2 linked regions of the Homo sapiens genome follow. The protein of the gene in region 1 interacts with the protein of each later gene in a biochemical or structural test. Each region holds a gene or a part of one and is shown on either strand. Other genes may lie near its edges.

Region 1 (7,070 bases):
GTTCTGGAGTGAAACACTGTATCCTTTAGCTTAAAGTGAAGAGACAGAAAGGAGGGGGACTTAATTACTGTGTATACACTATGTAGCAGATTCAAGAGTCCAGAGCATGCTGTTACCCAAATATGCTAAATGGCCACATCCTATCCTCTCAGACTACAGTGTTCTGAGCATGGGTTTTGGGTCATGCCTCCGGGTTCACTTCCTGGTTTTGTTACTTGTAAGCTCTGGGGCAAGTTTCTTCACTTTCTTAGCTTCATTTTCCTCAGTTATAAAATCAAGGTCATTCCTGATAGTTCCTACCTTACACAACTGTGGTGATTGCATAAAATAACTCACATCAGCTGGGCGCGATGGCTCACGCCTGTAATCCCAACACTTTGGGAGGCCGAGGTAGGTGGATCACCTGAGGTCAGGAGTTTGAGACCAGCCTGGCCAACATGGCAAAACCCTGTCTCTACTAAAAAAGCAAAAATTAGCTGGGCATGGTGGTGTACTCCTGCAATCCCAGCTACTTGGGAGGTTGAGGCGTGAGAATCACTTAAACCCAGGAGGCTGAGGTTGCAGTGTGCCGAGACGGCACCACTGCACTCCAGCCTGGATGACAGAGTGAGAGTTTGTCTCAAAACAAACAAACAAACAAACAAACAAAAACCAAACAAAAAAACCCCCAACTCACATCACTACGCTGACATATACAGTAAGCTTGAAAGTTAGGTATTTTATAGCATTATTTCTCCCAACAGAATGTATTGCCAAATTCATAGCTAAAGTGAGACAAGTCAGAATACTAGGATCTTAGATCTATTCAGGAAAAATCTACTTCACAATGACATAACTATAAGCTCTTTTCATTGAAAGTAATGGCAAAACCTGCAATTACTCTTGCACCAACCTAATATAAATACCCCTGTTTTGGCAACCAAATCTAAACTGGCTTTGGATCAAAGGTCACATATTACACAATTTCATGTCATACTTCATCCATTTATTCAACAATTTCATGTCACACTTCATCAATTCACTCAACAACTGTGTATGGTGCACACTCCACACAAGGCATGGTTCATGGTTTTTGGTATTGAGGTTTCAAAGGTTGGATAGGAGAGAGATGATCTCTGCCTTGAACTTCTCCAGTCTGGGACACAGGAACTAGACCAGGTGAAACACCAGCCGGGAAGATGCAGAGGGAGCATCCTGGAAACTGGCAGCCTTGGCTACTTTGAAGGTTCAAATTATTTTTCCTTTTCCTGAATTAGAATAATGTCTATTCTCTCCATATTGCCCTCTGTGCCCACAGGTACTACTCCTTCTTTTGGGGCTTTTCCACATCTAAAACCTGACGTATGCTAAATTCCAAGTTCTTTCCTTTCTCAGCTGCTGTGGTGACACCTGGAATCCTGGCAAGAGGGGGATGTTGTTGCATTGGGAGGAATCACAAAACGCCTGGTCTTGTCCAGCCCTTGGACTCCCCCAGGCAGAGGTGAGAGTTGAGTGGAGAGGTAGGGGACTCCTAATTCAAGGTTGGTTGTGGGTATTCTTAGCAAACAATTACACTTTACTAGAATATGAAGTGGCAAAGTGGGGAAACACACAAGGCTAAGCTTACTAAGCTTACTAATGATTTGCAGGGGAATCTGTGACTCCCCACTAACATGGAAAGTAAAAATGTACATTTTTGTGGAAAGAGTCATTTGACAAATATTTTAGCATTTGCTAGTACGAGGCACCATTCTAGGAACTGGGAATAATACATCAGTAAACCAAACTGTCAAAGTGTCCTGACCTCCTTGAGTTTTTATTTTACACAGAGATGTGGATCACAGGTTTATTTGACAAAAAGGTCTGGGACCCAAACAATGCTTTGGAATCAAGATACTAAACCTATGGTGCTCAGCGTTGTGTACCAACAACACATAAGGGGAACCTTAAAAGTTCAAATGACTTAGCCCTTCCTTGACATTCTGATTGGCTGGATCTGTGCTCGGGTTTGATAATTTATGTTTTGAAGTGCTGTTCATATTGACCTAGATTGCTTCTGAAAAAAAGCTGGAGACAAAGTTCCTCTCACCAAGCAAAGCCATGGAAAATTGGTCACCTCCTTTTTTCAGAAACACAACAATGCAATGGGATTTTCAGTTCTGGATATCCCAAGAGAGAAGCATCAACATCCCTCCTTACTTTTATTAGCTTAGAATAGCACCCTACAATGCTTTAAAAGGATGTTTAAACGTATGCCTAAACCAGGTATGGTGGCTCACATCTATAACCCCAGCACTTTGGGAAGCTGAGTCAGGAGGTTGGCTTGAGCCCAGGAGTTTGAGACCAGCCTGGGCAATCAACATAGGGAGACCCCCCCATGTCTACAAAAAATCAAAAAAATAAAACTAGCTGGGCATGGTGGCATGTGCCTATAATTCCAGATACTCAGGAGGCTGAGGTGGTAGGATTGCTTGAGTCCAGAAGTTCGAGGTTACAATCAGCTAGTCGAGCTACTGCACTCCAGCTTGGGGACAAAGCAAGACCACGTTTCTAAAAACACCACCACCACCATCAAAAAACAAACACACAAAGTATGCCCATATTTTCTAAGTTCTAGAAAGGAGAGGATAAATTATCATACTTACTAACTTGAATCCCCAAATGATTTCCCAATTTTCTTCCCAAATAGTAATACTACTATTAAGAATATAATGAGTTTTTATTATTTGCCACTTTATAAGTGTTTTCCCACGTAATACTTCCAAGAACCCTGTGAGGTCTTGTTCTACTTATTTGATCAGCGAGAAACGGAGGCGCGGAGGTCACCAAGCTTGCTCAAGGTCACACAAGGGTGGACCCCTGAGCCTACCTCTCAACCTCGACTGCTGTGTCCATCCTTTCTTCATCGTTTCAACGTACCCCCCTCATTTCTTGGAATCTCTCCTGTGACCAAAGATGAACAAAATTATACATCACTAAAGAGGAAAACAAACTGCTGGGGAGACTACTCAGCAGCCTGATTTGAGGAGTATTTGGGAAGGGCAGCCTTCCTGTGGTATGGGAGTCTTTCTGTCCGCCACCTCGCCGGGACAGAAGTCACTCCATCCGCACCCCCGGGCGACCTCCGGAGGCCGCAGCTACCCCCGGGCTGCGAATTCCGAGTTCTCTCACGCCCCCGCGGGCGCCAGGACGCAGGGCATGTCCGCGCCCGGCGGGGATCCTTATCTCCTGGCCCCGGAGTAGGTCCGCAGGCTTCTCGGCCCTGCCAGGAACTTGAGGCCGGGGCAGATGATTGACTGGGTCCAGCAGTCTCTGCTGGCAGGGCAGTTGAAAAGCTAGAGGGATCTCTTTTTTGGTTGAATACCTGAACCCACACTAGCACCATGGCTTCTCTCTCTTGCCTGTAGTTTCCCGTGTCCTAAAAAGTTGGTCCCAAAGTTTAAGGATGCGGGTGTGTGTAAGAGCGCGTGTGACCCGCACAGGGATCCCAGTTGGGGAACCGGAGGATCCCACCGTCCCCCTCCCCCGGGTCGCAGAGACCCTGGCAGACCCCGCGCCAGGACCCGAACCCGCAAGCGCAGGGCAGGCAGGGAGGCGGCGAGCGCCCCGGGGCGGGTCTCGGGGGTTTCAGTGGGACCTGCGGCAAGGGGGGCGGCGAACCAGCCGGGCTGGGTGACCGACAGCCTGGCCAGCCACTGGCCGAGGGCGGTTAGGAGGCTTAGGGCCGGCGCGAGTGCGTGCGCGTGTGCGTGAGTGTGAGCGCCAGGGTGAGTGTGGCAGCCTCCCCAACCCCCACCTGTTTGAAATGGTTTTCAAATGCCAAAGCCAGATTGCCCGGGTTTCAAAAGTTGCAAACAGTTGGAGTAAAACACGTGTGCGGCCCTCCAGCCCCAAAGGAATCCGCGGAGTCCAGGGCACTGAAAGAAAAGGAGAGAGGATAGGGGTTCAGGAAGGGTTGGGGGGGAGTTGCCTTCTCCCGGCAGGTCGGTTTTAGGACCCATCGGGAAGCACGTTGGAATCTCTCCCTTCGGGGAGGAGGGGAGGGGTGGGCCGGCCGGCTGGCGGCCGCGGGGCGCATGCGCGCGCGTCTCCTGTCGCCGGCCGCTGCGCTCCGCGGCGCGGAATAGAATGAACTGTAACAAAACAAGCCGAGCCTTTGTATCTGCTTAAAGGGGCCGCGAGCACTTACCTCCCGCCCTGCTCCCCGCCGCCCCGCCACCGCGTCTTCAGGGCTCCCGGCAACTGGCTGGAAGGGCTTCCCTCACCCTCAGTAACAGCCTGCCAGCGAGGAGAGGCGAGCCGGGCGGGAGGCAAAGAGGAGGCACCGCATTTGTAAAAGGCAAGAGAGAAAGGAAGGAAGGAAAAAAAAATAACCCGAGCGGCGCAGAGTGGACTCTGGTCCGGGAGAGCACGGGCGGGCGCCGGAACGTGGACCCAGAGGCACCGGAATGCAAACAAAGCTCGCGGGCGCCTGTGCGGGGCTCGCGGGGAAGCCCAGAAAGTTTGTTTTATGATGGCTTGAGTGCGCGAGCGTGTGCAGGGGAGCGAGGCTGCCAAGTTTCTCTCTCCTGTTTTGTGATTTGGGGAGAGATGTTTCTCCCATGAACAAGCGGAGGCTTGGGGGCTCGTGCTGTGGGGGGCACCTGTCTCTCGTTTTATTTTTTTGGAGGAGGGGTGTAACTCATCATGTCCAAAGTGATCCAGAAGAAGAACCACTGGACTAGCAGGGTTCACGAATGCACCGTGAAGCGGGGACCCCAGGGCGAGCTGGGGGTGACGGTGCTGGGAGGCGCGGAGCACGGGGAGTTTCCGTACGTCGGAGCGGTGGCGGCGGTCGAGGCAGCGGGGCTTCCCGGCGGCGGCGAGGGCCCGAGGCTGGGCGAAGGGGAGCTGCTTCTGGAGGTGCAGGGGGTCCGGGTGTCCGGCTTGCCCCGCTATGACGTGCTGGGGGTCATCGACAGCTGCAAGGAGGCCGTCACCTTCAAGGCCGTCAGACAAGGTAAGGCAGGGCGCGCCTTTGGGGGGCGCCCCGAGAAAAGGAGGGTGGTCTGTGGGCTGCCCCTTATTCTCGATTTCCTGCTTCCCTCCTCGGAGCGCAGTGAAGAGAAGTTGAGGCCGTGCGCCCTGTGGTGGCGGTGAAATACACAAAGTTGTTGCGAGGTTGAGGGTTGTTTGCCCACCTGCGTTTCGAAGAGGGGGCTGGGTTTGCGCAAGGTAGCGGGGGGACGTTTCTCAGGCCTGGCTGGCCAACCTGTTATCTCCGCCACTAAGTGCAGCGCAGTCTCGCCTGCACCCGAGAGAGAGTTGGGGAACTGAGTCAGGGGCATGGTGGACGCTGTCCTGGCTCCTTGGGGGAGGGATGCAGCTGGCGTTCTTTGGCCACGAGTCAGTTTCCATACCTGCTGAGTGGGTATACAGAAAGAGAGGGTCTGTAGTTTATTGGACCTCCCCCATCAGAAAATCTGCTTCACCCCGCGACCCCTCCAGGTGAGCTAGGACACCACTGCCTGGCGGTTCCTGAGCCCGCCGCCAGAAGAGCCTGCATTCACCCCTCAGCCGGATGACGCATGTGTCTCCACCGTGTGGCTCAGCCATACACTTGGGAGGGGGAGAGGGGGAAGGGGTGCTTGCTTTTAGCTCGAATCGGGTCCAAGTTTACCCTCCCACCACCACCATCATCGTCATTATTGATGATGAAAATGAAGCTACTATTCATTGTTGGTTTACTACATGCCCGGCTCTGTGTAAAATACTTTACTTGCACTATCTCACTCCGATTCACAACAGTTCTAAGAACGAGTTGTTCTTATTTATATACCCCAAATTAGAGATAAGGAAACTGGGATTGATACTGGTTAAGTGACTTGCTCAAGGTCACACAGTTGCCAAAAGCGAGGGTTTGAGCCCTTGCTGCAGAGCCTTAAGTATGGAGGAGGAAGGAGTGGGGGGATGACCCTACCGCACTGAAGGGGCTGATTCCTGAGGAGGGAGTGGAAGCAAATTCCTCTCTCAGAAATCTGTAGAGGCCTTTTAAAAGATGCATTTGCTGGCTGCTGGTGATGTAGGTCCCTTACATCTCACTTTGGTACAGACAAGGGGCTGTCCTCATGTCAACCCAATGGAGACCAGCTGAGGCCCTTAAAGGGCTCCCTTGTGCAAGCAAGTGCCATGACGCAGGTTCTCCCCAGTGAAAGCACCGAAGGAAGTCGTGAAGTTGAACATGGTGAAAAGTTCCCATGTGTTTCCATAAGGACAGGCAGCAGCTGGAGGAATGTGTCAAAGGAAGGGCTGGGCCTAGCTGGTCCTCTCTTGGAAACAGGCGTGCTCCAGATGAAATGGAGGAGGGGGCGGCCGACTCGCCTGGCCTTTTAGCAGCTTTGGGAGCTGAGGAGCTGACACTTAGCTATGGAAAGCTCCTTGTATTTATGACTTCATTCTCCACTGGGATACCTCCTCCAAGAAGCCCTCCAGAATCCTGCTAGGATGCACAAATTCTTCCTCCTTTGGGCTCCTTTAATGTCTACTTTGTGGCTTTTTTACTTACTCTGAACTCTGAGTTAGGTCCTCATTTCCATACAAGGTAGTGAGCTCATTAAAGGGAGAGATTGTGCCTCATTCCTGGCATACCTCTCCAGGTTTTGCTTGAGGTTCAAAACCTTTCCTGGCCTGACAATGCGTCTTCCTCACACTGGCTTTCCTGTGGGTATTACATAAGCTAACACGTGGAAAGTGCACCCAACAGTGCCTGTACATAGTAAGTGCTCCATAAAGATTAGCTATTTATGTTTGAATTGATTTTAGCAGCTATTTATTTCTGAAACTAGTTTTTAGTGTCAGGAACCTGGATAATTATGACTTGATAGGGCTGTAGAGAAAATACTGTGTGAAGGCATAGGATGGGAGCAGCTGCAGGTCTCAGTTCAGGACCATTTTGGAGAAAGGGTGGAGGAAGGACAGGCAAGGGTACCTGCCCAACTAGGGGGATGCCTCGCAGTGTCTAACGGGTCCTGAATAGGGGCTGGCTTGCAGTGTTTGCAGTGTGCAAGATGCTGCATGGGCTTGTGTCTCTTCCTTCCACTAGTTGCCAAATT
Region 2 (6,882 bases), on another chromosome or scaffold:
TGGGAGATATAAAAATGTATGAGACAATTCTGGCTCTCAGTGAGCTTACAATCTATAAGAGAAGAAAAGGGGAAAATATAAAAATTAAATAACAACATAAGAAGTATCAAAAGGCAACCTATTGTAAATTGCCACCTGAAATGAAATTGGCAGAGTCACTACTATAGGTCAGAGGAAGGAGAGATCATTTTCAGAAGCAGTGGGCAGAGAAGATAAAGAGTCCAGCCACATCTCCAAGGCTGAATTCGCTGGGAAGCAGGAGGAGGTTTTGGTGGAGGGAACCCAGTGAGAAAGTATAGATGTACAAAAGGAAGGAGTATGGATCCCCAAAAGGAAAAAGAATACAGAAATGCAAGTTATGGTGATAAGGAGAGTTCTAATATGAAATAGGGCTGGAAAGGCCATTTAGAATTGGACCGGGGAGAACTGTGAATGTTAAATTGAAGAGGTAAGGTTGCTGAACAGAAAAGCATCTTGGTCAAAGCAGCATTTTGGAAATACTCCTTTGGTTATGATATGCCAGATTAAATGGAGCAGGGAGGACCAGAGACAGGGAGATCAAATAGAACCCATGGCAAGTCCCGGTGTGGGGTGAAGGTGGGGGGATGGGAAAGGAAGAAGTTGAGATAGGAACTCTGTGGAAGAAGTGCACGACCTCTCAAGTGTGCTGATCAGCCCTCATTGTTGGAGCTTTCTGTCATTTTCCAAAGCATTGTGAAATATATGGGTTTTTAGAACTGACTCTCTTTAACAGTTGCCAAGTGAAGAATGAAGAAATGAAGGAGTTTTATTTAACTTACAATATCCGATACCTGTAAAAGTTGATACGTTGAACCTTTTCTTCTTGATCTTGTATCCTTACCTAAGAATAAAAAGTGTTAGGCTAAAAAAAAAGTTAAAAAAAAAAAACACCAATCATAAAATGTAGGAATTAAAGGAGTTCTGAGAACATTTTATTTTTATTAGACAACCAACTCTAGTTGAACATGTACTATTCCAAACTCTTCTGTCAGTAAAATTGAAGGAAATCCCCCAGAATTCCTGAGATCCCTGTACTGGTACTCCTGCTAGAATAACCTTCTGGTTTCGAGGGTTTATAATTTAATGTATTATACAGAAATTCGGAGAAACTTGATGTATCTCTGAATGAGCAGAGAAAAAAAGTTTCAGGAAAGTTTTCCAACAATTCCAATGTCACGATGTGTTTATATATATAATGATGATACGGCAAAGTTACTGGCAATCTGGCTTCTGCCCTGAACCTCTACGACCAAGTTCTGGCCTTATCGCACACAGAAAAGCAATGCCTTCCACCCTTCGGGGGCATTTAAGGTTGACACACTCTATTCCGGTAACACCACTTGACAGAAAGATGGCAAGGAAAAGCCTCTTCCCCACATTCCCTATGCCTCACCCTGCAGCTCAGCACTCAGAACTCCTTTCCTGGGCAGCGTCAATTTCAACTTCTTCCAATCCCTTGGCTATTTTGAGACTGCCCCTTGTGGGTCCAGAAGGAAGCCAGGAGGCCGGGGACAGTGGCTCATGCCTCTAATCCCAGCACTTTGGGAGGCCAAGGTGGGTGGATCACCTGAGGTCAGGAGTTCGAGACCAGCCTGACCAACATGGTAAAACGCCATCTCCACTAAAAATACAAAATTAGCCGTGTGTGGCGGCACACGCCTGTAATCCCAGCTACTTGACAGGCTGAGGCAGGAGAATCACTTGAACCCGGGAGGCAGAGGTTGCAGTGGGCCAAGATCACGCCACTGAACTCCAGCCTGGGCAACAAAAGTGAAACTCTGTCTCAAAAAAATAAAAAGAAAGAAGCCAGGAGTCTCAGGCTTTCAGTGACTTGGATAACTTGGGGTGTAGTCTCCTTCCTCCCCTTTCTAACGCCTCTTGTTTCCTGGCCACTCCTCCTCAACCTCCCCAAGTTGGAAAATCAGCTGATAAATCATGGGCAGGGGGTGAATAAACAAATCACTCCCCAGTTTTAACATACTGATGCTGAGGTTTGGGCCTAAAGCAAATTCATATGTTTGCATTTATGTAAGAGAAAGTGGTTAAAACTGCTTGATTTTATATAAACTTGAAAAACATTACTTTTTGCTTTTGACCTGGACAGCTGTGGAAGTCGGTCTCTCCTTGCAAGGTAAGGATATGAGCTTGGTCATATTGATGACCATCAACGAACATGATGTTCGTTACGGGCGCTGTTCTTATTCCAATGCTAGAAGGACCTGTGAGCATTATATAACATTTTCATGCACCCTTACATAAACAATTAGAAGCTGTTTACTCCTCAAGGACTCAATTAGAGATTTTTTTAATTTTTTTATTTTTTTTTTTATTTCAGGCCTGAGCTGAGGACACTACAGGAGCCAAATTAGAGAAGGGGCTTGCAGTCCTGCCATATTGCATATTCATGGCTTTCTTGTCCCCTCACCCCCAGTATAATCCTTTTTGCCAGGTTAACAACTCACTAATTTCAAAGCAATTCATTTGCCAACTCAAAAAAAAAAAAAAAAAAAACCACAGATACAACTTTAAATGCTTTTGGATTTTAATCCTCTGGAGTATTTATATGTTTTCTTGTCTCATCCCTTCAAAACTAATCTCAGAGTTTTGAGAATCTGGGAACTTGGGCAAAGGAGAAAACAAGCACGCAGACCAAGGAATCTGAAATCGCAGTTCATTACGTCAGCATAAACTGACAGTACCTTTTTGTTTGTATTGACCCAGCTCAAATTATAAAATCACATGAGTAATAAAACACAAAATACAGGTGTTATCATTGAAAAGTCTAAAATGTAATTAAACGCGTTTTTTCCCCCTCGCGGTGGTATCGTTTACTCTGTATCTCAACGTTTCTGTCTCCCTAAGCCTCTCCTTTCATATCATGAGCATACATTTTTGCATCATGCTCACACGTTCATTAGCTAGGACTGAGGAGTGTGTACGATTCCAAAGGGCCCTCAGCGTTAGCTGTTAGATGCACAAACCTTCGCTTCCTTTCCACATCTACTGCACTCGAGGTTCAACAGAGGATCCTTGCAAGAACAGCGCCCAGAGAGCATTCTTGACAGATGCGCGCTTGGCTCCAGCAACCCGCTCTGCTGGGAAGTTTCTTCTAACCACTAACACCCACCTCCAATCCCCCAAGCTGTCACGACGCATGCTGGCTGGGTCCCGTCTTGACGGGGGAAGGGTTTTACACACACCCTGCTAGGCTGCCCCACATCACAACCAAGCTCGCAGGGCAAACTCCTCCAAGCCTGGCGGACAAGCTGTCCCAGGCGCTCTGGCGCTTCCTGAACACCAAGGTCCCCTCCCCGCTCAAGGGAGCTAGCGCTCTGTTCCGCAGAGAACCCCGGAACTGCAGGTCGAGGGGATGCGGGGGGAGCGGGGGCGCAGGAGGGAGCCGAGTGCTGGAGGCAAACGGGGCGCAGGAGCGGGTGCGGGAGGCAAACGGGGCGCAGGAGCGGGTGCGGGAGGCAAACGGGGCGCAGGAGTGGGTGCGGGAGCGAGTGGGGGCTGAGGGAGGGGACGGGGCCCCGGGGGGAGCCAGGCGCGGAAGGGGGCGCGGGGGAACAGGGACCAGGAACCAGCGGGCGCAGGAAGGGGTGCGTCCGCAGGAACCCGCGGGCGCACGGGAGGCACTAGCTACGCGATCAGCTCGGGACTCTCAGGAGCCGCTCAATTGCCAACGGGAGGGGGGTGCGGGGAGTTGGAGGTGGGGGTGCAGACCAGACGGGGGCGTGCCTTTGCCCGGATTGGCTGCAGGAGCCTGACGCGAGGCCCCGGGGGTTGGCTTGGGGAGTGGGAGCGGGGTGGGGTGGGTGCTGGGTGCCGGAGCTGCGGGCCCGGCGCGCTCAGAAACATGCTGAAGTCCCGGCGGCTCTTCCAGCAGCGGCAGCGGCTCCAGCAGCAGCGGCGGCGGCGGCGGCGGCGGCAGCGGCAGCGACAGCGCTCGGCTCCTGCGGGAAAGGCGCCCGGCGCCCATGCCTCCGGCCCCGCGCCGCGGCTGCCCTGACCCGGCCGCGACCTCCCTCTGCGCACCACGCCGCCCGGGCTTCTGGGGTGTTCCCCAACCACGGCCCAGCCCTGCCACACCCCCCGCCCCCGGCCTCCGCAGCTCGGCATGGGCGCGGGGGTGCTCGTCCTGGGCGCCTCCGAGCCCGGTAACCTGTCGTCGGCCGCACCGCTCCCCGACGGCGCGGCCACCGCGGCGCGGCTGCTGGTGCCCGCGTCGCCGCCCGCCTCGTTGCTGCCTCCCGCCAGCGAAAGCCCCGAGCCGCTGTCTCAGCAGTGGACAGCGGGCATGGGTCTGCTGATGGCGCTCATCGTGCTGCTCATCGTGGCGGGCAATGTGCTGGTGATCGTGGCCATCGCCAAGACGCCGCGGCTGCAGACGCTCACCAACCTCTTCATCATGTCCCTGGCCAGCGCCGACCTGGTCATGGGGCTGCTGGTGGTGCCGTTCGGGGCCACCATCGTGGTGTGGGGCCGCTGGGAGTACGGCTCCTTCTTCTGCGAGCTGTGGACCTCAGTGGACGTGCTGTGCGTGACGGCCAGCATCGAGACCCTGTGTGTCATTGCCCTGGACCGCTACCTCGCCATCACCTCGCCCTTCCGCTACCAGAGCCTGCTGACGCGCGCGCGGGCGCGGGGCCTCGTGTGCACCGTGTGGGCCATCTCGGCCCTGGTGTCCTTCCTGCCCATCCTCATGCACTGGTGGCGGGCGGAGAGCGACGAGGCGCGCCGCTGCTACAACGACCCCAAGTGCTGCGACTTCGTCACCAACCGGGCCTACGCCATCGCCTCGTCCGTAGTCTCCTTCTACGTGCCCCTGTGCATCATGGCCTTCGTGTACCTGCGGGTGTTCCGCGAGGCCCAGAAGCAGGTGAAGAAGATCGACAGCTGCGAGCGCCGTTTCCTCGGCGGCCCAGCGCGGCCGCCCTCGCCCTCGCCCTCGCCCGTCCCCGCGCCCGCGCCGCCGCCCGGACCCCCGCGCCCCGCCGCCGCCGCCGCCACCGCCCCGCTGGCCAACGGGCGTGCGGGTAAGCGGCGGCCCTCGCGCCTCGTGGCCCTGCGCGAGCAGAAGGCGCTCAAGACGCTGGGCATCATCATGGGCGTCTTCACGCTCTGCTGGCTGCCCTTCTTCCTGGCCAACGTGGTGAAGGCCTTCCACCGCGAGCTGGTGCCCGACCGCCTCTTCGTCTTCTTCAACTGGCTGGGCTACGCCAACTCGGCCTTCAACCCCATCATCTACTGCCGCAGCCCCGACTTCCGCAAGGCCTTCCAGGGACTGCTCTGCTGCGCGCGCAGGGCTGCCCGCCGGCGCCACGCGACCCACGGAGACCGGCCGCGCGCCTCGGGCTGTCTGGCCCGGCCCGGACCCCCGCCATCGCCCGGGGCCGCCTCGGACGACGACGACGACGATGTCGTCGGGGCCACGCCGCCCGCGCGCCTGCTGGAGCCCTGGGCCGGCTGCAACGGCGGGGCGGCGGCGGACAGCGACTCGAGCCTGGACGAGCCGTGCCGCCCCGGCTTCGCCTCGGAATCCAAGGTGTAGGGCCCGGCGCGGGGCGCGGACTCCGGGCACGGCTTCCCAGGGGAACGAGGAGATCTGTGTTTACTTAAGACCGATAGCAGGTGAACTCGAAGCCCACAATCCTCGTCTGAATCATCCGAGGCAAAGAGAAAAGCCACGGACCGTTGCACAAAAAGGAAAGTTTGGGAAGGGATGGGAGAGTGGCTTGCTGATGTTCCTTGTTGTTTTTTTTTTCTTTTCTTTTCTTTCTTCTTCTTTTTTTTTTTTTTTTTTTTTTCTGTTTGTGGTCCGGCCTTCTTTTGTGTGTGCGTGTGATGCATCTTTAGATTTTTTTCCCCCACCAGGTGGTTTTTGACACTCTCTGAGAGGACCGGAGTGGAAGATGGGTGGGTTAGGGGAAGGGAGAAGCATTAGGAGGGGATTAAAATCGATCATCGTGGCTCCCATCCCTTTCCCGGGAACAGGAACACACTACCAGCCAGAGAGAGGAGAATGACAGTTTGTCAAGACATATTTCCTTTTGCTTTCCAGAGAAATTTCATTTTAATTTCTAAGTAATGATTTCTGCTGTTATGAAAGCAAAGAGAAAGGATGGAGGCAAAATAAAAAAAAATCACGTTTCAAGAAATGTTAAGCTCTTCTTGGAACAAGCCCCACCTTGCTTTCCTTGTGTAGGGCAAACCCGCTGTCCCCCGCGCGCCTGGGTGGTCAGGCTGAGGGATTTCTACCTCACACTGTGCATTTGCACAGCAGATAGAAAGACTTGTTTATATTAAACAGCTTATTTATGTATCAATATTAGTTGGAAGGACCAGGCGCAGAGCCTCTCTCTGTGACATGTGACTCTGTCAATTGAAGACAGGACATTAAAAGAGAGCGAGAGAGAGAAACAGTTCAGATTACTGCACATGTGGATAAAAACAAAAACAAAAAAAAGGAGTGGTTCAAAATGCCATTTTTGCACAGTGTTAGGAATTACAAAATCCACAGAAGATGTTACTTGCACAAAAAGAAATTAAATATTTTTTAAAGGGAGAGGGGCTGGGCAGATCTTAAATAAAATTCAAACTCTACTTCTGTTGTCTAGTATGTTATTGAGCTAATGATTCATTGGGAAAATACCTTTTTATACTCCTTTATCATGGTACTGTAACTGTATCCATATTATAAATATAATTATCTTAAGGATTTTTTATTTTTTTTTATGTCCAAGTGCCCACGTGAATTTGCTGGTGAAAGTTAGCACTTGTGTGTAAATTCTACTTCCTCTTGTGTGTTTTACCAAGTATTTATACTCTGGTGCAACTAACTACTGTGTGAGGAATTGG

What was found.
Region 2: the proteins of MAGI1 (region 1) and ADRB1 interact in a test that uses a peptide from one of them, tested with the Homo sapiens proteins (2 studies listed by IntAct).

Annotation. Positions count from the first base shown.
Region 1 is NC_000003.12:66,035,904-66,042,973, reverse strand, and holds the start of MAGI1 (membrane-associated guanylate kinase, WW and PDZ domain-containing protein 1), read left to right. Parts: upstream 1-4,055; 5' UTR 4,056-4,665; coding exon 4,666-4,978; intron 4,979-7,070. UniProt on the Homo sapiens protein: Plays a role in coupling actin fibers to cell junctions in endothelial cells, via its interaction with AMOTL2 and CDH5. May regulate acid-induced ASIC3 currents by modulating its expression at the cell surface.
Region 2 is NC_000010.11:114,039,992-114,046,873, forward strand, and holds the start of ADRB1 (beta-1 adrenergic receptor), read left to right. Parts: upstream 1-3,874; 5' UTR 3,875-4,141; coding exon 4,142-5,575; 3' UTR 5,576-6,882. UniProt on the Homo sapiens protein: Beta-adrenergic receptors mediate the catecholamine-induced activation of adenylate cyclase through the action of G proteins. This receptor binds epinephrine and norepinephrine with approximately equal affinity.